Regions from separate parts of the Homo sapiens genome. Here region 1 is linked to region 2. The links come from fine-mapping of genetic effects on gene expression. A gene starts in region 2. The other region holds a variant in brackets. All regions are shown on one strand. Distances are from middle to middle. Region 1 holds the start of SNAI1 (snail family transcriptional repressor 1). Region 2 holds the start of SPATA2 (spermatogenesis associated 2).

Region 1 (12,260 bases), 69 kb before region 2:
GTGAGAAGGATGTGGGGTCCTTCCTGCTGGAGCTGGGGAAGGCTGTCAGGCAGGGGCAGGTATGGAGAGGAAGAGGGAGCCTCGAGGGTCAGCGGGGACATCCTGAGCAGCCGGACTCTTGGTGCTTGTGGAGCAGGGACATTCGGGAGAAGGTCCGAGCACACGCCTGGCACTGGTACTTCTTGACATCTGAGTGGGTCTGGAGGTGGGCCCGCAGGTTGGAGCGGTCAGCGAAGGCACGGCTGCAGTGGGGACAGGAGAAGGGCTTCTCGCCTGGGGAGAGAACGCCAGAAAGGCCGAGTGAGCCGTGGGACAACGGCTGGCAGTGATGGGAATCCCTCCCCGCATACCCCAAACCCTGAAAGAATCCCATGATCCCAGGAAAGCCAGGCCTCCGTCAAACACACAGCCAGGGTCCAAAGGCCGGGACCTGACGGAGCTCTGCTGCTTCCCACTGTGCAACTCTGAGCAAGTTGTCTGGCTTCTCTGAGCCTCCATTTTCCCACCTGTAAAATGGGGCTATTCACCCCCCACTCATAGGGGTTGATAAGTGACAGAAGGTAGGGTACTCATCCACATCCCGCAGGGACGTGCGAAGTGGTCAACAATGACTCAACACCTTTACTGATTCATCCTACTGTCACTTGATCCTACTGTGGTCTCATTTCAGAGACAGTGAAACTGAGGCCCAGAAGTAGCATGTTCAGGTTCCCCTGGCAGGACCCCAAAGCCTCTGATTTCACCTACTGCCCTTACTGCCTTCAGTCAAGGGAGGACGTGACTGGTGTCCTTACCATCAGTCCTGGAGTCATTCCTTGATTTACTCTGTTGGGGGCCAAAGCCAGAGTCAGCCTTAAGAGGCTTCCCCACCCCCACCTCCAAGCTGGTTAGGCCACTCCTGGGGCCCGGCCAGCAGCCTGCTTTCCTCACCACCCCACCTCCTGCGCTGTAATCCCAAATCTCCTTGTCTGTTCTCCAATCAGGCTGAGTCCCATAAGGGCAAGGGCCTCCTTTGAGTCCCTTCTGAGCCCCAGCCCAGGGCCTGGGCCCCTTTCTATCACCCAAGAGGCTACGGAAACCTGTGGCCCTGACACACCATCTGCCTGGCCAAGGCTGTGTTGGGAAAAGTCTTGCACATGGAGCTGGGTGCCCAGTAAATCCTCAACAAGCCCTTAGAGAATAAATAAGTCTGTTTTAAAAATTAAAGAGGCCTCAGAGGAGTCTGCCCCCTCACTCATGCCTCATAACAATCCCTGCTCCAACCAAAAAGCTATATAGTTCCAAAAACACCAATAATGTTGATTTGTTTTTTTCTGGGGGATGCAGCATTTTCCAAATAAAAGGTCATAACAGTAACCCATTAAACAAAAATCTATTGAGGCTGGGTGTGGTGGCTCACGCTTGTAATCCCATCACTCTGGGAGGCCGAGTGAGGCAGGATTGCTTGAAGCCAGGAGTTTGAGACAAGCCTAGGCGATAAAGCAAGACCCTGTCTATAATTTTTTTTTTAATCTACTGAGCTCCTACTAAGTGCTAGACACTATTCCATAATACTGAATAGTCTTTTTAAAAAACATGCAATTCTCCAATCCCCTCACGCCCAGTCTGATATGCCCGCAAGGTCAGGGCCCGCCTGTGAAATCCCAGCGCTGGATGGAATTTAAGAGCTGAGAGTGAATTCATTCCATCACCTCCTGGGTGCCTAGGGTGCCACACTGAGCTACCAGGGTAGGAGAGAGTCCAGAGGATGGCTCCAATGGGACCCATGCATTCAATAGGGACTTATGGAGCGCCTGAGAGCTGGACTCAGTCTCATGGGGCAGAAATGGAAACTCGCCACTCCAAAGGGTGGGGGACATAGAGGATTGGGGGAGGGGTGCCTGAGCACTACTCCACTCTGCCATTACTCAGCAGCCTCCACACGCCACGCCTGAAGGGTTTGTTGATTGCATTCTAAGTCTTCATGTGAATGAGAAGGGTAAGTTCACCCTTGTGAACTAAGGGCTGACTCTGGAGATCTGGAAAAGGGGCTGGAGTCCATTTGTAAGACCAGAGTTAGGACAGCACCTCCCTTCCCTTCCCAGGGCTGTTGGTGAAGTCCTGAGCACTACCCTCCTGTACAGTAAGTGCCCAAAGTGTGATGAGACCTGAACCCAAACAAAAGGGGAAGGAGACATTCTAGGACATGATGGGCTGGGGGCGGGGGCTGTGTGCACACGCAGGAGGCACAGACCCCCACTCCTTGGATCCCTCGCCCCCCAGACGCCTTCATGGTACTCCTGGCAAGTGTGAAATCGGCACCAGGCCGGCGGGGACAAAGGGCGCCGAGGGGGGCACTGTACATGCGATATCCCCGGATTAAAGGGGCCTGCCATGCAGTGGGCCAGCAGCTGTGACTGGAACAGGTGCTGGGCACCGCTGCCCCATGCACCTGCTCCACCCCTCCCAGCCCCCACCCACTGGGCCCACCATTAAGGCACACAATGGGAGTCAATGAGGACCGCAATGATACATTTCAAGGGGATTTCTGTGTCTCAGCCATGCCTTTACATTAAAATAATGTCCAGATGGGAGGTGAGAGAGGCAGGCAGGACTGCAGCACCCTGAGGGGTTCAACTGTCCCAAAATAGAGCCCTGTGAGCTGGGCAGGCACCCAGGAGGCCAGGCAGTTGGACCTTTACATGTTAAAATCAGAGCAATTGGTGCACGAAGGAAGAGAAATGGGTAGCCTTAGTCGAATAAGATGCCAATAAAGCCCGCGAATTGCCAGTCCTCCCAGACACCTCACTAACCCTCACCGCTCAGAGGTCAGGCGCCAGGCCAGGAAATGGCAGAACCTGGCCAGCTTGAACCCTGTGGAATCTTCTCCCTCAACTGTCACTCTCCAAAGAGCAGCTCCAGGCACAGTGGCTGCCACCATTCAAGTTCTAAAAAGTTCTACCTTTTCTCCATGTCCAGAAAGTTTTTTACACATTTAGTAAATTTTCAAAAGACGTGATTGTGTTTTCTGCCCCAAAGATGCCGTTTCCTGGTCTGTGTGCTAGGATTCAGTGGGGGTGGGGAAGCCGACCTGAGAACCGTTCGGGTATAATAAATTACTATAAAGTGATTAGCCACCTTTACAGCCACTCTCTAAAACATATGCTATCATAGTTTTCCCCTAAGGCTCAGAGAGGTTAAGTTGCTTGCCCAAAGTCACACAGCAAGGAAGCAGAGCAAATGCCAAGGAACCATTTTTGTGAGAGTTTAGCAGGTACCGGCACTTTGCCAGGTGCTTCCCATATGCATTCCTGCATTTAGCCTGTATAGAAACCCCAAAAGCTGTTCTCATGCCCATCTGAAAGATAGAGAAAATGAGGCTCACAGAAGAGAAACATCAGCCTAAGTTTTGAGAAAGTTCTCAAAGAAGGATTCAGAGCCAGGCGGGGGGTCTGACAACATCCTGTCTGGCTAGGGAGGGGGCGGACCCGGGAGAGGGTGTGGCCGGGTGGGCCCCTTCACACCTGGCCCCCACAGCAAGGTGTTGGTTGCACCTTTCCCATATCCAGCTCCGACCCATTTGGCTGAGAAACAGGCTGCAGGGGATTGGGAAGGTGTCTGCTTTGCCCATCTGCTTAGCTGATGAAGAAAGTTTCTGCCAAACGTTTCCAGAGAGCCAGGCCCTGGAACTTGAGCTAGAAGTTAGAAGACTCGGGGCCTCAGTGTCCACAGCTTTGGGAATGAGAACAGCAAGCCCAGATTCACAAAAGCTGCCAGAGAGAGCAACGGTGGGGGCGCCTGGAGGGGCACGTACCAGTGTGGGTCCGGACATGGCCTTGTAGCAGCCAGGGCCTAGAGAAGGCCTTCCCGCAGGTTCCGCAGACGCAGGGCAGCGTGTGGCTTCGGATGTGCATCTTGAGGGCACCCAGGCTGAGGTATTCCTTGTTGCAGTATTTGCAGTTGAAGGCCTTTCGAGCCTGGAGATCCTTGGCCTCAGAGAGCTGGGCCAGCTGCTTGGGCACTTGGCCCAAGCCTGGGAAGGCAGCATAGGCCTCGGCCTCCAAGGAAGAGACTGAAGTAGAGGAGAAGGACGAAGGAGCCGGTGAGGGTGGGCTGGGGGGCTGGGAGCCTTTCCCACTGTCCTCATCTGACAGGGAGGTCAGCTCTGCCACCCTGGGACTCTCCTGGAGCCGAAGGGAGGCCCAGGCAATTGGCTGGGCTTGGGGCGCCAGGACAGAGTCCCAGATGAGCATTGGCAGCGAGGCGGTGGGGTTGAGGATCTCCGGAGGTGGGATGGCTGCCAGCAGGTGGGCCTGGTCGTAGGGCTGCTGGAAGGTAAACTCTGAGGGAGAAAAAGCAGAGTCAGGCGTTAATTAAATCATTCACTCAATCAACAAACATGAGCCCACCGCTGGCCAGGGGCTGGGTGGGGCCGATTCTCAATACATAATTAGATCAAAAAAATTATCCACAGGACAGACCAGGTTCCTGCCCTCCTCGCCCAGGTCACCCAATCTGAGTCTCTCACACGTAGGACCCCCAGTTGAAGGAGGTCATTTCCTGATCTCCCTCTCCTAAGTCCCCAGTCTCCAGCCTGAGGCCAGAACCCCATCATCCCAGCCCCGGAGCCACCACCCTGCCCCAATCCCCCTCCTCACACACATCTCGTCTCCCCACCCCTCCCCTCAACCCTCTGGACTCCGGACTCTCCCCAGCAGCGTCCAGAGGGCCCTCCTGACACAGGCCTCCTCTCCTTCCCCTCTTGCGGAGCTCCTCCGCCTCTCGCCGGCTACAAAGGCCCCCCAAGCTGAAGACCCCTGCCCTCTACACGGCACTCCCCCAACCACCCAGACAGATCCCCGGAACTGGGGACCCACTTGCCCGGTCTCCCGAGCCCGCAATGGTCCACAAAACATCCTGTGACTCGATCCTGGCTCAGGCAGGCCGCCTCCCTCAGGTGCCCCCCACGCAG[C/A]CTTCGCCTGTCTCCCCCAAACCTCCTGGAGCCCAGAACCCCTCCAACGCACCTGGATTAGAGTCCTGCAGCTCGCTGTAGTTAGGCTTCCGATTGGGGTCGGAGGGCTTCCTGACGAGGAAAGAGCGCGGCATAGTGGTCGAGGCACTGGGGTCGCCGATTCGCGCAGCAGTAGCGCAGAAGAACCACTCGCTAGGCCGTGCCGCGGCGCAATGAATGCAGCAGCGCCGCCAACTCCCTTAAGTACTCCGGGGGGGTGGTGGGGGGTGGGAGGGGCGGGGCCTTATCTGCCACGCCCCTTTGTCACCTCCGCGCCAATCGGAGGCTCGTCTCCGCCGAAGGCCACTCCCCGAGCAGGTGCGCCGGCTGCTGGCCGGGCTCGCGCCGCGTGGCGGTGAGAGCCCGGGCGGGGACTCCTCCGAGGCGGGGTTCGCTGGCGCAGCGCGGGTCGTCCCCGGTGCTGGGGCTGTCCGGGGCGGGACGTCGAGCGAAGCGAGGCCTCTGCGAGGTGGGACCCCGGCAGGACGCCGCGCGCCCACCGGCTCAGCGCCCGGTGGTCTGAGCGCTTCTGACGCCCCCTGGCGCTGCGCGCCGGCCGGGACACCTGACCTTCCGACGCCCGCCCCCGCCTCGGGCTTGGGAGGGGGCGGAAATTTCCTCCGCCCGGCTGGCGCCTGGAGAGCGTGGCATTGACGAGGGAAACGCACATCACTGGGGAGGAAGCGAGGAAAGGGACACCGCACGTGGCTCTCGGCGGCTTGAAATGCCACGGCCTTTTTGCAAAGCAGCCTGGCCCAGCTAGCCAAGAGCACCCGTTCCTTCCCTTATCCAGTGTTTACGGAGCGCCCAGCACGTGTGGGGCACTGTACCTGGGGCCAGGGCACAGCCCCGGACAGAACACTCAGAGCCTCTCCCGAAGGGTAGCTTCTGGTCCAGTGAGGGAGACAGACGAAGTAAACAGATAATTACAATGCAAAGGGAAGTGTGCTTTGGTGGGGGAGAGACGGGACGCGGCGACCGTTAAGAGGCGGGTCACCTGACAGGGGGTCGGGGTGACTTCCCAGAGGAAGTGAAGAATTATCAAGGGAAAAGGCCCGAGGGAAGAAGTGGCAACTGCTTCAGAGTAACTCCTAGAGAGCAGCTTCCAGGGATGGGGTGGGATGGGCATGCCCGGAGGGGTCAGATGTGCTGGGCCCCAGGGCCTCGTAGGAGTTTGGACTTTGCCTCAAGGGCACTGGGGAGCCACCGAAGGATTTTCAGCTGAGGAGGGACCTGGTTAGAGTTTCGTTGAAAAAGATCCCTGTAGGCTGGCGGGAGAAAGAAGGCATGGGCCGGGCGTGTCTCCTCACCCCGTGAAGATCCTCGATCCTGTGTCTAAAGGCTGTAACACGGCTCCATAGGGGCCCTGACTGAATGCATGTGGGGTGGGCCCAAGTGAGGGGCAGCTGCACCCCCACCCCAGCTTCCCTGGGAGGCGTACCAGGCCCGGGGGTGGCTCTGAAATAAACCTCACAGGTCTCACCGTTCTTGTTTCCACCTGTGAAGGAAGACTATAAAAACCTATAAGCACCCCACACCACCACCACCACCAACCTGAAGGGCAGAACTACTGTCTGTTTAGTCACTTGGTGCCGGGTGTGACAGCCGTGAACAAAATCGTCCTCCCCTGGTTCTAGCTGGAGAGCGGGCAGTAGGGTGGGGGACAGAGGCAGTAAGCAGTCATTAAGCGGAATACTCCCCGTCCCGTGTCAATTTAGCTCCAATCAGGATCCTTTGCTTGAAGCCAAAGTGAGGCCAGATCACCCCCTCCTCTGCTCAAACCCTCCCATGCGCCTGTCTCAGAGTAAAAGCCAAAGTCCTCTCCTCAGCCAACTCGGCCCCGCTGCTCTGACCCCAGCTGACATTGGCTTGAGCCTCTCTCCCTCCCCCATGCACAAGGATCCCACCCCCAGCCTTCCTTCTGTTCCTCCAACATCCCAGACCTTTCCCACCTTGGCACCTGCTGCTCTTCCTCCTCTCCCCTACGTCTCTTGCTCCTAGATCTTCACGCTGGCTTCCTTTCATTCTTTGTTTCAGCAGCAACTTCACTAACTGCTCAGCCTCGTTTAGTGAAGAGAGAAATGGCAAATTCAAGCCACAGTGAGCTGCCATTTCACGCCCATCAGAAGGACAACAAGGAAAAATTTGGTCACTATCAAGAGTTGATGAGGAGGTGAGAGCTGGCGAGAGGGTCGGTGGGCATAGTCACTTTGGAAAAGTTTGGCATCAGCTAGCAACAGGTGACTCCTCTCCCTGTCTGTCCTCAAGCCAACTGCATCCCAGGGGCTGCAGCTGACAAGTCTGTCCTCAAACCAACTGCATCCCAGGGGTTCTCAGCTCTGGCAGCACATTAGATCCCCACAGGGAAGGATTAAAACACCTAAGCCTCGGCCCACCCCACCCCCACCCACATCTTGATTTAATTAGTCTGGGTGGGGCCTCTGGCATCAGCATTTTAAAAAACTCCCCTGGGGATTATAATGAGCAACCAAGCAAAGTAAAGAACTGTTGTCCAGCCCAAACCCCGAAAAAACAAAAAAGGATATTCATTGTACCCTCGTTCCTAATAGCAAAAAAAGCAAAAACTAAAACAAAACTGGATACAACACAAATGTTTATAAACAGTAGACTGGATTAATGAACCCTGGTGCAATCCTGTAATAGAATACTATACAGCAATAAAAATGAACTACAACTCCATGCAGCAACAGGGATGAATCTCAAAAACACAATGTCGAGCAGAGGTCACAAACAAATGCATAGTTATTTGGATTTATACGAGGTTCTGAAGCAGGCAAATGAAACCCTATATTATTTAGGGATGTATGTGGGGGTTGTAGAATTAGAAAGAAAAGCAAGGAAGTGGTTTTTTGTTTTGTTTTTGAGACGGGGTCTTGCTCTGTCACCCAGGCTGGAGTGCAGTGGCACAATCACGGCTCACTGCCGCCTGGAACTCCTGAGCTCAGCCTGCCAAAGTGCTGGGATTACAGGGGTGAGCCACTATGCCGGCTGCAAGGAGATGTTTGATACAAAATTCTGAAGAGTGGCTGGTGAGGAGGGGAGGCAAGAACAGGCTGCACATGAAGCTTCTAGAATTTTGGTAATGATCTGTTTCCTAGGCAGGGAGGGATCTTTATTGTTAGTCTTTCTACTGTACATGGACTATTTATTTTACCGTATCTTCATGACATGGTAGTGTACAGAGACAATTTAAACACTTTTAGGTATGAATAATATATTTAACACAAAAAATGTAAGTCACTTCCTCAGGGGAGCCTTCCCTGATCACCCTAGCCAAAGTAGGACCCACCCTTGCCCCAGCACCCACCTTCTTTTTTCTTTTTTTCCCCCTTTTTTCACTGAGACGCGCTACCATGCCTGGCTAATTTATTTTTTGTAGAAATGGGGTCCCACTATGTTGCCCAGGCTGGTCTCAAACTCTGCGGCTCAATTGATCCTCCCACTTTAGCCTCCCAACTTGGTGGGATTACAGGAGTGAGCCACCGCGCCCAGCCCACCTTTCTCTCTCATTGTCTTATTCTGTTTTCTTCAAAGCACATAATGGGGGCTCAATCAAGTACTTGCAGGCAGCCACTGCCTGGGCCTCCCGCTTTCCACTTTCCTTCAGTGGTCAGGCACCTGCGCGGGGCATGGGGGTGGGAGGCAACGCAGAGGGGAGGGGCCTTGCTCAGATCGGATCGAATTGTCCCCGCCACCCCCTCCAGGCCCGCCCTCGCTCCACTCCCTCCTGCAGGCGGCGGAGACCACGAGGTGAGAGGAGGCTTCGGGCCAGGCCTCTCGGCCGCAGACCCAGCTCCCTTTGCAGGGGAAGGTGAGGTGACACTTTTGATACTGTGGGGTCAGGTCCTCCCGGAAATGGGCGACATCTGCGGCCCAGGTGGCCTGGGACCCGGCAGGGCCAGGCCCTCCCCAGCTCCCCGCACGAGGGGGTCCCGCCCCAGGCCTGGGGCGCGGTCCTCTGGCGCCCTCTGCTGGCCAAGGCGCCTCCCTGCAATCGTCGCGGGGTGCAGGGGGCACGTGCTTTTCAGGGAGGTGAAGGCTGGTATAACTGCCGGGAGGGCAATCTGGGAATACCTAGTGTGCTCACGAAAGGCTTCTGGAAGGAAGGTACATTTGAATAGACACCTGCATTTTCTGCAGGTGCCAATCTCCCACTAGAAGTAAAACCAGTAGCTAAATAATGTGATTTACAGTTACCCAACTAAAAGAAGAGTCTCCCTCCATTCCAGACCTCCTTTTCCCTCCCCAAAGCAACCTTTTTTTTTTTTTAAACCAGTGTCTTGTATGACCTTCCAGGGATGGCCTATGTATATATTAATATGTGCATGGGCAGTGCGTGGTGGCTCACACCTGTAATCCCAGAGCTTTGGGAGGTCAAGGTGGGAGGATCGCTTGAGCCCAGAAGTTTGAGACAAGCCCGGGCAATATAGCAAGACCCTGTCTCAAAAAAACAAAACAAAACAAAACAAAAAATAGGCAGGTTACATGCCTGTTGTCCCAGCTACTCGGGAGGCTGAGGTGGGAGGATCACTTGAGCCTGGGAGGTAGAGGCGTCCATGAGCCAAGATCATACCACTGCACTCCAGCTTGGGCAACAGAGTGAGATCCTGTCTTTAACTATATATATATATATATATATATATATATATATATATATATATGTATATATGTACAGCCCTTTATGTATTACAAATAGGAACCTCCACACTAACCTACACCTTGCTATAGTAACATTTTTTTGTTTTGAATCGTCATCACATGGGTAATGCTATAACAATATTCAGTGTTTTGAAAATCATTCCATATCATTACACGCAGCTCCCTTAGTTTTCTGCAGGGATGCGGACTATTCATTGTATGGATTATAGCACAATCACACAATTTACCTAACACGAAGACTCATGATGGGCATTTAGGTTAGATTGCAATTTATTGGCTACTACAAATAATGTGGCAATTTCAATGAATGCCCTCTACACACATCATTGCACTTCACATCAAATGGTATGTTATATAAAATGTTGATACATTTGTCCAAATGCCATCCAAAAAGATGAAACTGAACTATACTCCCACTAGCAGGGAGTTGAGGGCCCCTTTTCAAAAGTTGCCCAACACAGAGTATTGTCTTTTTGTTTTTCTTTTTTGAGACAGGGTCTCGCTATGTTGCCCAGGCTGGAGTGCAGTGGCATGATCATAACTCACTGCAGCCTCCATCTCCTGGGCTCAAGTGATTCTCCTACCTCAGCCTCCTGAGCAGCTAGGACTACAGGGCTACAGGCATGAGCCACCACACCTGACCCTGTCTATTTTTTATTTTTTGAGACAGTCTCACTCTGTCACCCAGGCTGGAGTGCCATGGCATAATCCCTGCTCACTGCAACCACCGCCTCCCAGGCTCAAGTGATCCTCCCACCTCAGCCTCCAGAGTAGCTGGGACTATAGGTGCGAGGCATCACATCTGGCTAATTGTCTTTTGCTTTTTTTTTTTTTTTTTTTTTTTGTAGAGCCGAGGTTTTGCCATGTTGTCTAGGCTGGTCTCAAACTCCTTGGCTTAAGTGATTCACCTGCCTCGGCCTCCCAAAGTACTGGGATTACAGTCATGAGCCACCTTGCTGGCCTTTAACTTTTTTATCTTTGCCTGTCTGATAAGGGAAAATGGGATCTCCTGTTGTCATTTGCATTTCACATGACTAGGGTGGAGCATTTTTTTTTTTTTTTGCGACAGAGTTTCACTGTTGTTGCCCAGGCTGGAGTGCAATGGTGTGATCTCGGCTCACCACAACCTCCGCCTCCCACGTTCAAGTGATTCTCCTGCCTCACCCTCCCATGTAGCTGGGATTACAGGCATGTGCCACCACACCCACCTAATTTTGTATTTTTAGTAGAGCTGAGGTTTCTCCATATTGGTCAGGCTGGTCTCAAACTGCCAACCTCAGGTGATCCACCTGCCTCGGCCTCCCAAAGTGCTGGGATTACAGGCATGAGCCACCGCACTCAGCCGTGAGCCACCACGCCCGGCAGTGTGGAGCATTTTTTACATACACCAAAGCCATTTCTGTTTCTCTGTGCTCTGAACTATTGCTTCATGTCCTTTGGTCACCAAATTGATGAACTTGATTTCTTTCCTTTTTTAAAATCCTGCATGTCCTTCCAGTGAATGAACTTCTTAATTTCTAAGAGCTCTTTATTAGACTGGTGGCCCCTGTTGATTAGCTCATTATCAGTGAATGAATTGATCAGGAGTTGGAAAGTTAATCTTGACCAGGAGAAAGACATTGTCTACAGAAAGTTCAATGAATGAGTCAATGCTCTACTGCCATCCTCATCCTGGATTTAACCTCTTCCTATGCCTCACACTTGCCTAAAAACAAACAGTGATTCAGCCGTGGGCCTTATCCAATAAGCCCTCTGTGAAGTCACCATTTCAGAATACAAATTGCTTCTAAGGGAGGTTTCTGGGTCAAGGTCTAAGTCCGTTGGGCATGACCCATGGGGGGAGGCTCCAAGATAAGCTATACAAGCCTTTGTAAAATGGTATTTATTTTTTATAATTTTAAAAATTAGAGATGGGGGTCTCACTATGTTGCCCGGGCTAGTCTCAAACTCCTGGGCTCAAGCAAACCTCCCACCTAATCCTCCCAAAGTACTAGTATTACAGCTAGCCTTTTCATTCCTATTTACTGAGCACCTGCTGGGTGCCAGGCTCGTTGTAGGAGGCTCACCTCAGGGATGTCCCTATAGCATCCCAAAGTTGTATTCTAGGCTCCTGCATACAGGCCGAGGCCATGCGGGGACCAATGAATACATTACCCATCTGCCCCGAAAAGAAGGAAAAAGCTCTGGATGTAATGAAATCATATCAAGATATTAAGTGCTAAAAAGCAAGGTGCAAGCCGGGCTCGGTGGCTCACGCCCGTAATCCCAGCACTTTGGGAGGATGAGGCAAGTGGAGCACCTGAGGTCAGGCATTCAAGACCAGCCTGGCCAACATGGCAAAACCCCGTCACTACTAAAAATAAAAAAATTACCTGGGCACGGTGGTGTGCGCCTGTAATCCCAGCTACTTGGGAGGCTGAGGCAGCATGGCTTGAACCTGTGAGGTGGAGGTTGCAGTAATCCGAGATTGTACCACTGCACTCCAGCCTGGGCAACAGAGTAAGACTCTGTCTCAAAAAAAAAAAAAAAAAAAAAAAGCAAGGTGCAAAACACCATTATACAGGTATTTCTTAGGACATTAAACCATCTC
Region 2 (13,516 bases):
GAATCAGCCATTTCTCCAGGAAGCCCTGGTTCCATGGACTAAGATCTGGTTAGTCTTAGTCTACGTGCTTGTTGCTACAGGTGTGCCATTTCTTCTAGGCCCTCTCAACAGGTAGAAACAGGAGGTATATTTACAAATATTGTTTATAATTAAGAAATTTTATTTAAAAATCTGGATTCCAGGCTGGACGCAGTGGCTGGTGCCTGTAATCCCAGCACTTTGGTGGGTCAAAGTGGGAGGATCACCTGAGGCTAGGAGTTTGAGACCACCCTGGGCAACACAGCAAGATCCCACGTCTTCAGAAAATAATTAACTGGGCATGATGGCATGAGCCTGTAGTCCCAGCTGTGTGGGAGGCTGGGGTGGGAGGATCCCTTGAGTCCAGAAGTTTGAGGTTGCAGTGAGCCATGATCATGCCACTGTACTCCAGTCTGGATGACAGATCAAGACCTTATCTTTAAATAAATAAATAAACAAACAATCTGGATCTCTAACTCCTCTCCAAAAATCAGAGTATCTGGTCATTCCTGGTGAGTGGGGATCTTGGCCACAAGTCAGCTGAAGCATGGAAGGAATTCAACAATATTTGTTTTCTCACTGAAGTACTTATTGGATGCCTACTGTGAGCCGGGTACCATGTTAGATTACATTACTCATTTCTGGTCCTACGCAGTGTGAGGCTATAGTACTCTAGTACCTCGTATTTGCCCACATTATGTGCTTGCAGGTAGCTGAGTTTGTGTTTTTGTTTTTTGTTTTTGTTTTTGCTTTTTTGAGACAGGGTCTCCCTCTGTGTCCCAGGCTAGAGTGCAGTAGCGTGATCTTGGCTCACTGCCACCTCCACCTCCCAGATTTAAGCGATTCTCCAGCCTCAGCCTCCTGAGTAGCTGGGACCACAGGTGGGCACTACTACAGGCTGGCTAATTTTTGTGGTTTTAGTACAGATGGGGTTTCACTGTATCGGTCAGGCTGGTCTCAAACTCTGGGCCTCAGGAGATCCGCCTGCCTCGGCCTCCCAAATTGCTGGGATTACAGGCTTGTGCCACTGAGCCCAGCCACAGGTAGCCGAGTTTTTGATCTCAGGTCCTTGCCTTTGATTGCTCCCTTTACTCCAGCTGGAAGGAAAGCTGGACAGCCTCACATGTCCAGGTCACTCAAAGCCCAGCTCAAATGCTACTTCCTCCTGGAGGCTATCCTTCATTTACCCTGTCAGAGGTCACTTCTCCATGCTCTAAGCTCTATACCCCTCTCATATCATTTACCATCTTCTATCCTGAATTCTAGGGTTTTATTAATCCTACTCCTATGTTATGAATATTCTCTTTCGGTTAAGGAGACTGGATGCTCTGTGAGGGCAGGAACTGTGTCTGTCTCACTCACAGTTATGCCCTTTAAACCTAACATCAGGGTGGGCATGGTGACTCATGCCTGTAATCCCAGCACCTTGGGAAGCCAAGGTGGGAGGATCACTTGAGCCCAGGAGTTTGAGAGCAGCCTTGGCAAAATTGCGAGACCCTCCCTCTACAAAACAGTTAACAAAATTAGCCAGATGTGGTGGTGTGCAACTGTGGTCCCCGCCACTCAGGAGGCTAAGGTGGGAGGATCGCTTGAGCCTAGGAGGTTGAGGCTGCAGTGAGCTATGATCATGCCACTACACTCCAGACAGGGTGACAGAGTGAGAGACCCTGTCTCAATTAAAAAAAAAAAATCTGACATCAAACTTGGCACATGGTAGGTATTCAGTGAAAATTCTGGTCAGAAACAAATTATGTTGAACAACCTATTGCATGCTAGGTAGTGCATATATGTCAGGTAGTAGTAATATAATTGTGAACAAAACAGACATAGTTTTGTCCTCATGGAGTTCACTGACTTCTGGGGGAGAAAGATATTAATACAGATCACATAAATGTGTGTTTGTGGAATGAAAGACAGATATCTGTATCTGTGTTCCTGTCCCCAGTTGACTTTTTTTGTTTTGTTTTTTTGAGACAGAGTCTCACTCTGTAGCCCAGGCTGGAGTGCAGTGGTGCCATCTCGGTTCACTGCAACCTCTGCCTCCCAGGTTCATGCCATTCTCCTGCCTCAGCCTCCCGAGTAGCTGGGACTACAGGCACCCGCTACTGCGCCTGCTACCACACCCGGCTAATTTTTGTATTTTTAGTAGAGACAGGGTTTCACTGTGTTAGCCAGGATGGTCTCGGCCTCTTGACCTCGTGATTTGCCCACCTCGGCCTCCCAAAGTGCTGGGATTACAGGCGTGAGCCACCGCGCCTGGCCATGCATCACCCTTTTTAAGTGATCCACAGTATTTGTTAGTATGGATATACCATTACCCCAGTGATGGAGATTTAAATATTTCCTATTATTGCTTTTGCATTAGAAACAATGATGCAAGAGGTCTCTTTGGGCACAGTGTATGTTTCTCTAGCAGATTTTGAGAAATCCAATTGCTGGGTCATGGGGTAGCTTTTCTGTTTTGCTTTTTGTTCTATACTCCTCTGTATTGTTGGAATCATGTATTACTTTGGTGATGGAAAAAAAAACTAAAAAATAGAAAGAGGTAGGTAGATTGTTCGTGTTGTTGGCTCTTCGGAAGTAGAAGTGCCTAATCATTGTCACGTGACCCTTACATAATCTGGTAATCATTATATAATAAAGTCGGGAAAGGACGCTCCTGTCATTTCTACATCACCAAGTAGAGAAATCACAAGCCTTCAACTGTGTTTAAAAGATGAGAAACATGGCCGGACACAGTGGCTCAGGCCTGTAATCCCAGCACTTTGGGAGGCCGAGGTGGGCGGATCACGAGGTCAAGAGATGGAGACCATCCTGACCACCTTGGTGAAACCCCATCTCTACTAAAAATACAAAAAATTAGCCAGGCGTGTTGGCGCGTGCCGGTAGTCCCAGCTACTCCGGAGGCTGAGGCAGGAAAATGGCGTGAACCCAGGAGGCGGAGCTTGCAGTGAGCTGAGATTGTGCCACTGCACTCCAGCCTGGGTGACAGAGCGAGACTCCGTCTCAAAAAAAAAAAAAAAAAAAAAAAAAACTGAGAAATGTGACTGTCTTTGGAGACTTTGGGTCTTTTCTGATAGTAGATGATGACCAGGGTTTCCTACTGGTAAAGCCCTTCTTCAAAATCTTTGTTTCTCTTTTGCCTGTCATAGACCCACAGAGCTGGAGGGGACTTTTTTAAGCAGCCCCACGTGAAAATGCAATATTGTAAGAGCTACCAAACCAGAGTGCTGAGTTGCTGTAAGAGGCAGACTTAAGGTGGGACAGTTTGTCTCAGATGGAATTCCTGTGAACATCATCACATTGCAGATAATTAAGAGAGGAGCTTAAACATGAGCTGATAAAGAACACAGGGACTTTGAGCGGTGCTCAGGCAACGACAGGTAAACACAGTAATGCTACTGTTTGGACAGCAGCAGATTGCTGGTTCTCCAAACGTTTCCCAGTATTGTGTCACTGACTCATCACACAAGCCCCACCGGTTTTAGCTGGGGTCACCAAGACTCAGAGTGAGAATCCTACAATCAATGAACATCTGTTGTGTGCCTCCTCATCAGACATGTGCAGAGCTCGGGGGGAAATAGATGAATAAGAAGCTCAGGGTCTGGTGGGGATGTCAGATTATATATATATATAGTTTATCCGAAAGTGCTGGGATTACAGGCGTGAGCCGCCGTGCCCGGCTTTTTTTTTTTTTTTTTTTTTTTTTTTTTTTTAAGAGACGTGGCCTCGTTATGTTGCCCAGGTTGGTCTCGAACACCTGGGAGCAAGCCATCCTCTCGCCTCAGCCTCCCGACTAGCTGGGACTACAGTCGCGTGCCACCACGCCTGGCTTTATTATTTAATATTACAGGTTAGAAAGCTGAGGCTCAGAGAGGTTAGGTAACTTGTCCAAGGTCACACAGCTAGTAAGTGGCAAAACTAAAAATAGAACCCACGCTCTTAACCGCCGCCCACGGCCCGTAACACCCGCAGCCCTAGCAAGGCTGGATTCCAATCACGCGTGATTTCAGCATCTCACTGGCTCTCTTTGAGCCTCGGTACTTCTGTCCGTAAAATGGGGGCGAGGGATCCGACCGTCAGCCCCTGCTTGCTTGTGCGGAGTCATGAGTACAGCTCGTGGATCATGATAAGTGGCAGGTCCGGGAAGTGGAGGCCGAGTTCACGCAGTCAGCACTCATAGCTCCCAGCTCCCTGCTCCTGAGCGGTTTCCATGACAACCCGGCCAGCCACCATCCCTAGGCCGAGCGGCTTGCGTCACGTCCGGCCTGTTTACTTCCGGGTCCCAGTCTCAGACGCAGCGATGGCTCGTTAGGCTCCAAAGTGCGGTTCCGCCGGTTTCGTCCTCGCTCTTCGGCCTTCCGCTTTGTCCTCCGCCTCTGGGTTGTAGTCTCCGTCGGCCGCGGGCATCGACCGCTTCCCGGAGCCAGCGCGCAGCCGTGGTCCACCCTCTCTTCGGGCCCGCCTCATGGTGACATCATTTCCGGGCCGAGTGTTTCCGGGTCGCTGCTGGCCCCCGGGTACTGGTCTCAGTACCCCTGCAGCCGGCCGGAGAGGCTAGAGCCCGACGGGGCCCGGCTCCGGCGGCAGCCGCGCCTCTCGCTTGCTTCCCTCGGCCGGGCCGTCCTCGGCGGCAGTGTCAGGGTGAGTGACGGGCGGCCGCGGGCGGAAACTGCCTTCGGGGCTTCCCCAGGCGGAGGGGGCGCCAGACAGCGGCAGGGCTCGGCTGGCCCGGGAGCGGGGTACCCTCACGGCAGGCAGGACTACAGGTGGGCCCGCTGTTTCGGCGCTCCCGGGACCCCCAGCCTATCCTCAGGACCCCCATTCTCCCGGGAGCTGCCTCGCAGGCTCCTGGGACCCGCCGAGGGTGGCTCAGGGCCGCCCAAGAGGAACACCCCTCTTCGGCGACTGGCCAAACAGAAGGACACCCCGATTTCGCCACGAGGCAGTTACCGCGCAGGGGTTCCCAGTTCAGGCTCTGGCGGCACACCTGGGTTTGTACTCACTGTGTGACCTTGGATAAGTCACTTCATCTTAAGAGCCTCAGTTGCCTATTTAAGTGATTGAACCTGGTTGCTAGGGCTGGAGTGGAGATGGAATGAGATCATGCAGGGCCTCTGGCATACAGCAGGCGTCCAATAAGTGATAGTTCCTGTTACTTCATTCAATTCACGAAGCCGTAGGGGGGGCCAGAATTTGAGACTGGGCTGTTTTTCACAACTGACGTGGCCCCCCGAGGCTGTAGGAATGACCGAGCTGGGACTTAGCAGCCGCCAGCTTCTGTCCCCTGCAGGGAGGGAAACAGCTTCCTTCAGAGCTTCTCCGAGAGAGGCAGCTGCCACTAGGGAAGCTTCTTTCAGCACCGCTGAGGTTATTTTCAGAGGTTTGGAAGGACTCTGTGTGAATTTCTTTGGAATCTAGTAGGAGTGTGGGGACCTTCTGGTGTTTCACAGCCAGTGGAAGGTGCCTTGGATGTTTCTCGGAGCCTCTTGCTTGGAACGAGTGCATTGGTGTGGGTGGGGAGGTGGAGGGGGTTGAACTGACTTCCCCGTCTCCTGTTTGGAGGCTGATGGAGCTAGACCAGGGATGTGTAAACCTGTGGACAGGGGCAGTGCACAGACCAAAATAGGTCTGCCTGTGCAGAGAGGGGGCGCCTTCAAATGCTGCTTGGGGAACATTTCTGCTTGAATGGGCCAGCTGAGGTAAAGCCAAGCTAATGCTTAGCTACTCGGAATCACTTCACTTCCATGCAGTGGGACTCTAAACAGATACAGCTTTCCTCTTAGATGTTCAAAAAATAACTAAAGAAGCCACTGGCTCCCTGACTGTGCAATATCTCTTTTTCCATTGACTTGCTTTTCAAGAAGGTACCTAGATTGTGGGTGCAGGAGGTGCTGACTGGAGCCGTTGACTCTGGGCACCTGCCTGTCTCTGTGTTCAGGATATTCACAGTGCTGTTTTTTTGTTTTTTGGGTTTTTTTTTTTTTTTTTTTCCACCAGACTGGCACGGCTTGGCGTTCCAATCCTTGGGTTGCTTGGAGAAATTAGCAGCTTCTGTCGCTGGGCTGTCTCGGTCTCCTGTAACCACGATGTTTTTGCAGAGAGCGTATTTTGTTGTTCTTGCAGAGTGCTGGGAATGAATTGCTGGCTCTGTGCTCAGAAAAAACACCAGCTATGACCAGCTACAAGGCATCTTGTATTCTCAGAAAATGTTTTCAGCAGGGATGATGTCAGCTGCTTCATCACTGGCCGATGTCTCTGACCAGCCTCTTTCCTTGGCCCTTGAGCTTACATCATATAGAGATTAGCTCTCCTAGCCCCATTCGGTGTGGGAAGATGGGAATTTTGCTACTACAGGAATTTTTGTAACTCAACTCTGCTCGCGCCGCCATAAGGCATTCTAACTTAGCCAAACACTTTCGAGTAGAGCTGTCCAGCAGATGCAGCAGGATGGCTTTGCAAGAGTCGGAGTTTTGGCGTTAGACCTAGGTTCAGAGCTCAGATCCACTTCTTCCTAGCCTTACGACTTAGGGTAAGTGAGTTGGCCTCTCCGAGCCTCAGTTTCCTCTTTAACCTTGGATCTATCCTGTGGATTTCATTGGTTTTCACAGAGCAGTTAGCAGAGGGATGCCACACAGTAATCCCTTGGTAAATGGTACTGATGTAACAATAAATGAGTGAGGTAAATTGGAGAAAGCCCAGGCATCAAGGGCCTCCCAGCAAGAGTTCAGATTCCAGCTCTGACCCTTTCAAACTCTGTTGGGCAGGTTGTTTTAATGGGAAGAGCCTGTTTTCCTTATAGAGTTGTGAGGATTAAATGGGATGATGTAGGTAAAGTGGGAAGCCCAATGCTTAGCACATAGTAGAACCTCAGTAATTGTTAGTCTCTTTCTTTCCTTTCCTTATTGACTGATTGAGACAAGGTCTTGCTCTGTCACCCAGGCCGGAGTGCAGTGGTGCCATCATAGCTCACTGCAGCCTCAAACTCCTGGGCTCAGTGGATCCCCCCACCTCAGACTCCCAAGTAGCTAAGACTACAGGTGGGTGTCACCACACCCACCTAATTTTTTTTTTTTTTTTTTTTGTAGAGACGGAGTCTAACTATGTTGTCCAGGCTTGTCTTGCCCTTAATTATCTTTTAGCTTTTACTTTCTTCCGCCTTTTCCCTCACCTACCCAGGTTGGTTTGAGATTTGTTTTAGATAGGCTTCCTGTCCTTATTGTGAGTATTTTGAACATCAGCTGGGCTGTTTGGATCCCTTTCCTTTATTTATTGTTTTTCAGCAACAAACAAGGGTGTGGACTGTGGTGCGATTATAGAGCAGCAGACGCTGAGCCGAGCTTGAGACTGGCTGACTTTGTAAAAAATCAGTCTCTTTGAGTTCAAGGCTGACTTCCTTGGAGAAAAATTACAGCAGTATTCGGAAGCTTAATGTCTCTGTGTTTGAATGGTTCTCAGACTACCAAAAAACAGACCCTGGGGCCAGAGGCGTGATGGCAGCTTCTCTTAGATAAGTCAAGAATGGTAAATGCATGTGTGACTATCCTCTCCAGTGGTGCAATACATTTATTTATGTAGAGATGGAGTTTTTGCTCTGTTGCCCAGGCTGGAGTGCAATGGCACGATCTCAGCTCACTGCAACCTCTCCCTCCTGGGTTCACGCCATTCTCCTGCCTCAGCCTCCTGAGTAGCTGGGATTACAGGTGTTCGTCCAGCTAATTTTTGTATTTTTAGTAGAGGCGGGGTTTCGCTATGTTGGCCAGGCTAGTCTCAAACTCCCAATCTCAGGCGATCCACCCACCTTGGCCTCCCAGAGTTGTAGGATTACAGGCGTGAGCCACCGCGCCTGGCCTGCATTTTTATTTTTTAAGAGAATATACATTTTAAATTGTTTATTTTTTTATGGACAGAACAGTATGAAGTTAGAGCACATACCTACTTTGATACTAGGTGGTATGCTCTTCCAGCTAGAGCTGCAGGCAGGATGTGTCTCCTTTATTGCTGTCCTCTACCTGTCCCACCCATCCCCATTCCCCGACTGGGTCCAGCTCAGGCAGAGGGTGGGGGCTGCAGAAATGCTTGCTGGACATGGGAATCGTGGGGTGGTGAGAGGAATACAGGTTCCAAGTCAGAAGGCCAGGCTTGGATTATCGGGTCCATCATCTGCTAACCTTGAGCTACTTGTCGTACCTCATGCCATCTTTCTGAGCCCGTTTCTTTGCTCTCCAGCTGATCTCCCAGGATTCTTGGGAGGTACCAATGAGAAACTAAAGTGATGGCATCGTGAATGCAGACATCCTTTGCAGCATCCATTTCTCTTTTTCTCTTTTCTTTTTCTTTTTCTTTTTTTTTTTTTAGAGACGGAGTCTCGCTCTGTTGCCCAGGCTGGAGTGCAATGGGGCGATCTCGGCTCACTGCAGCCTCCGCCTCCTGGGTTCTAGCAATTCTCCTGCCTCAGCCTCCCGAGTAGCTGTGATTACAGGCGCATGCTGCCACACCCGTCTAATTTTTTTTTAAATTTTGGTAGAGACGGGGTTTCACCGTGTTGCCCAGGCTGGTCTCGAACTCCTGAGCTCAGGCAATCCACCTGCCTCGGCCTCCCAAAGTGCTAAGATTACAGGCGTGAGCCACCGTGCCTGGCTGCAGCATCCATTTCACCTACTTTATCAAGCACAGGCAGGCTCTGTGTTAGGCATCGTGGTGAACAACACAGACATGGTCCTTGCCTTTATGGAGCTTACCACGAGCTTACCAGCTTACCAGGGAGGGTGAGGGGTGGACAAAGAGAGGAAGCTAATGAATGAATGAAGTTGATAGTTTCAGATTGTGGTTATCGTAGGAGAATGTGACAGTGTGGAACTGGGAAGGTGAGATAGGGTGGTACCTCTAGAGGCTGATGTTTGAGCTGAGGCCTGAATGATGAGAATCTTCCTGAAGCAGAATTTTATCCCAAGTGGATTTTGTTTTCTTTTGTAAAGACAGGGTATTGCTATGTTGCCCAGGCTGGTCTCGAACTCCTGGCCTTGAGCAATCCTCCTGCCTTGGCCTTCCAAAGTTTAGGGATTACAGGCGTGAGCCCCCGCACCTGGCCCCTAAATGGATGTGTTTGCCTCCTGTACTCCTCAGCCTTATTTGTCACTGTAGCACTGGGCTCCCTCAGCAGTGCAGTGTGTTGGAGACAGTGGCCTCTCTGTGTCCCTAGTTTTGCTACACATCCCACCTCTCACCGCACCATTAGTACTCCCAGGAGTCTCCTCCTGGGGACAAAATCTGTGGAGGAGCCAGACTACTGGCTCTTTGAGATGAGGATGATTTTGTTGACCTCCTGATAGTTGCTGGGCTCGTAGGACCTTCCTAGCTGAACACAGGTCTGCTAAAGGAGTCCCCCACATGCCAGGCCCAGTCCTGCTGCAGCTTCTCTCAGCCCCTTGCTGTCTCCCACACTCAGCAGACATGAAGCACACAGGTCACCTTACTGAGCAAGATGGTCACAGGCCTGCACCCACGGAGCTTCTGGGCAGGAGCAGCAGGACCAGAGCATGTGAAAATGCACATCTACCACCCAGTCAGAGGTATTTGCCCCACTCAGAGAAGGCCTGTCCACTTAGGGGTACAGCACCTTCAGACAACAGCAATGGCCATCAAGGACTTCCCGGAGCCGGCTCTCTGAGCAGCTTCATATTCCATCATGCATAATCCTCTCGCCAGCTCTGGACAGAGGCGCTATTATTAACCCCGTTTTATAGGAGAAAACCGACACCCAGGGAGGTGGAGCAATTTGCCCAAGTAACCTGGAGAAGCAGCCCTGGCCTCACTCGCAGGTGCCTGGCCTTGGACCCCGTGTCCGTGACCCTGCGCGTGTTGTCTCCCCTGGCCCTGGCAGTGTCCCTCCATTAATCCGGATTCGCTCCCAGCGTTGTGGTGACAAGAATATTGCTGGATCTGTGCCTGTTCTACTAACAAGTGGCTAAGCAGATGACAAGATTGTGTAAAGCCTGTGTCCCAGCTCAGAACATTCTATCCTCTCCCAACAGGGGGCTGTCAAGCGCTCTGGTGATAAAGGGGCCGCAGGCTGTCAAAGGCCGGTAACAGCACTCCAGGGGCCGGTAGCCACGGTGGCCTCTTTTGAAAATTGTAAATAAGACCGTATCTCTCTCCCCTCGCTGTAAACTCTTCAGTGGCTTCACGTGGCTCTTTGTATAAAATATCGAATTCTGAATGTGCTCTTGCGGCCTTGGGGCTGAGGGTCCCGCTGATGCTGGCATCTGCCTCTCCTCATGCCCCTGCCCTCGTGGCCTCGGCCTCACTGGCTGCAGTTCTGTTACTGTTCCAGGCTTCCTGCCTCAGGAAAGCAGGGTGTGGTGGGTAAGGGCATGGACTTTGGAGCCAGATTGCCTGGGTTCTGAGCTCAGCTTCTCTGCCTCCTGAGAGTTCTATAACCTTGGACAGTTTCTTTTTCTTAAAAATTTTTTTGTATTTTTGTAGAGACGTGGTTTCACCGTGTTTCCCAGGCTGGTCTCGAGCTCCTGGACTCAAGCCATCCTCCCCCGTCAGCCTCCCAAAGTTCAGGAATTACAGGTGTGAGCCACTGTGCCTGGCCTACCTTGAGCAGTTTCTAATGTCTGTGTCTCAGTTTGCACATGGTCCACTGGGGCTGCCTGTAGCGTCTCTCTCCTAGGATTGTTTAAGAAGAAAAAGTGAGGCTGGGTATGGGGGCTCACACCTGTAATCCTGGCACTTTGGGAGGCCAAGGCTGGTGGATCACTTGAGGTCAGGAGTTCGAGACCAGCCTGGCCAACATGGTGAAACCCCATCTTGACTAAAAATACAAAAATTAACCAGGCGTGGTGGCAGGTGCCTGTAATCCCAGCTACTTGGGAGGCTGAGGCAGGAGAATCGCTTGAACCCGGGAGGCGGAGGTTGCAGTGAGCTGAGATCACGCCACTGCACTCCAGCCTGGGCTACAGAGCAAGGATCCATCTCAAAAAAAAAGTAAGCGAGTTAGTGTGTGTGAAGCTCGTCACGTGTCTGGAGCCTCTGGTACTATTAGCTCAGGGCCTTCCTCTACTGCGACTCCTTCCCCGGCCTCTTGGCCTGGCAGACTCCTCATCCTTCAGGTCTGTTGCTGTCTCAAGAGGGCTTTCCTAAACTCGCCCTTCCCCAACGAAACCAGGACAGGAGCTCCTGCTGTACTCACCCGAATTTCTCTTTCAGGAATATTAATCGTATTTTTCATTTGTGAGCACAACAAAGTCAAGGTCCATCTCTCTCTGGCCTCTGTTGTAACCCTGCTTGTAGTACATGCTCTGTAGTGTGCTGCTGGGGTCCAGTGTAGCCCAGGCCAGTTCTGCTGTTCATTTTGCCTCAGCGACCTGAAGCCGAAGCGCGACCGTATCGAGGAATGACATGCTTCTTGTTCCCCTCCTTCCAGAGCACTCCGCTGGTCCAGGCGGCAACATGTCCATGCTTTTAGTGATGTCCCTGCCTCTAATCCAGAAGCCATGGAGGAGATAAGGTAGCCCCCCTCGATCGGATGGGGAAGCCCAGTTCAATGGATACTAAATTCAAGGATGACTTATTTCGGAAGTACGTGCAGTTCCATGAGAGCAAAGTGGATACCACCACCAGCAGGCAGCGGCCTGGCAGCGATGAGTGCCTGCGGGTGGCAGCCTCAACCCTGCTCAGCCTGCACAAGGTGGATCCCTTTTATCGATTCCGGCTGATCCAGTTCTATGAGGTGGTGGAGAGCTCCTTGCGCTCGCTCAGCTCCTCTAGCCTGCGGGCTCTGCACGGCGCCTTCAGCATGCTGGAGACGGTGGGCATCAACCTCTTCCTCTACCCGTGGAAGAAGGAATTCAGAAGCATCAAGGTGAGGTCCTGGAGCAGCCTCCATACAGGCCCTCCTTCTCTCTTCCTGCCCCTGGCAGTCCCTCCTGAGAGGCTATGCCAGTCTGATCCCATCCATCCTGTGCTCTCAGATCCTTCCGGGCTCCGAACCTTCCCCGTCTCTCCAGCATCACCTCTGAACCGTTTCTGGCCCGGCTGCCACACCTTAAGCAGAGAAGCTGGGAAGGCAGGGGCAGCCAGGTTATGCAGGGTCTTGTGGCCCAGGGCAAGGCTTGGATTTGTTCTGAGTAGGCGGGGAAGGAGGCAGTGTGGGATCTGGCTTGCATCTGAAGAGGGTCATTCTGGCTGTGGTATGGGAAGTAGGCTGTAGAGGGGTGGGGGGAGGTGGGAGGGATGGGGAGAGCAGTTAGGAAGCTTCTCAGCGGTCCCAGCAAGCTGAGGGGTGTTCTGTACTAAGTGGGAACAGTAGAGGAGGAGGGGGAATTGAGAGAGGGATCCTGAATCAGACCACGCGGGGGATGGCACAGGAGAGCTGTCACCTAGCCAGGCTTCTTCATTCTGCCATGGGAGGAGTGGTAATCAAGAGAGGGGATGGCACAGGAGAGCTGTCACCTAGCCAGGCCCTTCAGTCTGCCGTGTTACTCAGCCCCTCATGGAAATACCAGAGAGGAACGTTCTGATTGTCACCGCGTTCTGCCTGTAATCTGGCCCCTTTATTCAGCCATGTTTGCCCAGGCTCTCTCTTCATATGGAGTAGAGTCTTCGTGCCCCACTAGGAAGCGAGAGGTTTTGCTTCCTGTGTTTAACAAAGTAGCTGCTGCCAGGCGCGGTGGCTCACACCTGTAATCCCAGCACATTGGGAGGCCGAGGCGGGTGGATCACGAGGTCAGGAGTTTGAGACCAGCTTGACCAGCACGGTGAAACCCCATCTCTACTAAAAACAGAAAAATTAGCTGGGCGTGTTGGCGGGCGCCTGTAATCCCAGCTATTCAGGAGGCTGAGGCAGGAGAATCGCTTGAACCCAGGAGGCGGAGGTTGCAGTGAGCCAAGATCGCACCACCGCACTCCACCCTGGGCAAAAGAGCGAGACTCCGTCTCAAACAAAAGAAAGGAGCTGCTGGGTCATTTCCTTGCACAATTCCTGAGTGCTTAGCAAGCCCCAGCTCCTGCGTCTTCTGCCTCCCGCAGGGTGAGGCTGTCGAGATCCTTCCCTGCCCTGCCCTCTCCCCGCCGCCCCACTTCAGAGCTGGACATCCTTTGCTTTGACATAGTCTCTGTCTTGTGTCTCTGACAGAAAACCCCACCTTTCTTTTCTACTCCCTCCCTTCTAGACCTACACGGGCCCTTTTGTTTATTATGTCAAGTCGACATTACTGGAAGAGGACATCCGAGCCATCCTGAGCTGCATGGGCTACACACCTGAGCTGGGCACTGCATACAAGCTCAGAGAGCTCGTGGAGACCCTCCAGGTGAAGATGGTCTCCTTTGAGCTCTTTCTGGCCAAAGTCGAGTGTGAGCAGATGCTAGAAATCCACTCACAAGTGAAGGACAAGGGCTACTCCGAGCTGGACATTGTGAGCGAGCGCAAGAGCAGTGCAGAGGATGTGCGCGGCTGCTCGGACGCCCTGCGGCGGCGGGCAGAGGGCCGGGA

The links.
Region 1: its variant is fine-mapped to the expression of SPATA2 in whole blood (INTERVAL, PIP above 0.99).

What each region holds. Positions count from the first base shown.
Region 1 is chr20:49,975,885-49,988,144 of GRCh38, reverse strand. SNAI1 (snail family transcriptional repressor 1) reads right to left here and starts at 5,165. Exons shown (of 3, transcript NM_005985.4): 1 at 5,004-5,165; 2 at 3,794-4,321; 3 at 1-273. The coding sequence starts at 5,085. The coding sequence ends at 89. RefSeq lists silencers at 5,151-5,670, 8,732-8,831, 8,932-8,991 and an enhancer at 5,823-6,760. The variant C/A (reference allele first, on the strand shown) is at 4,952.
Region 2 is chr20:49,906,526-49,920,041 of GRCh38, reverse strand. It overlaps SPATA2 (spermatogenesis associated 2), which reads left to right and starts at 4,513. Exons shown (of 3, transcript NM_006038.4): 1 at 4,513-4,662; 2 at 11,450-11,887; 3 at 13,197-13,516. The coding sequence starts at 11,552. It overlaps LOC105372653 (a long non-coding RNA gene), which reads right to left and starts at 4,220. Exons shown (of 3, transcript NR_134564.1): 1 at 3,957-4,220. RefSeq lists enhancers at 4,472-4,531, 5,326-5,495, 9,836-10,130 and a silencer at 4,562-4,811.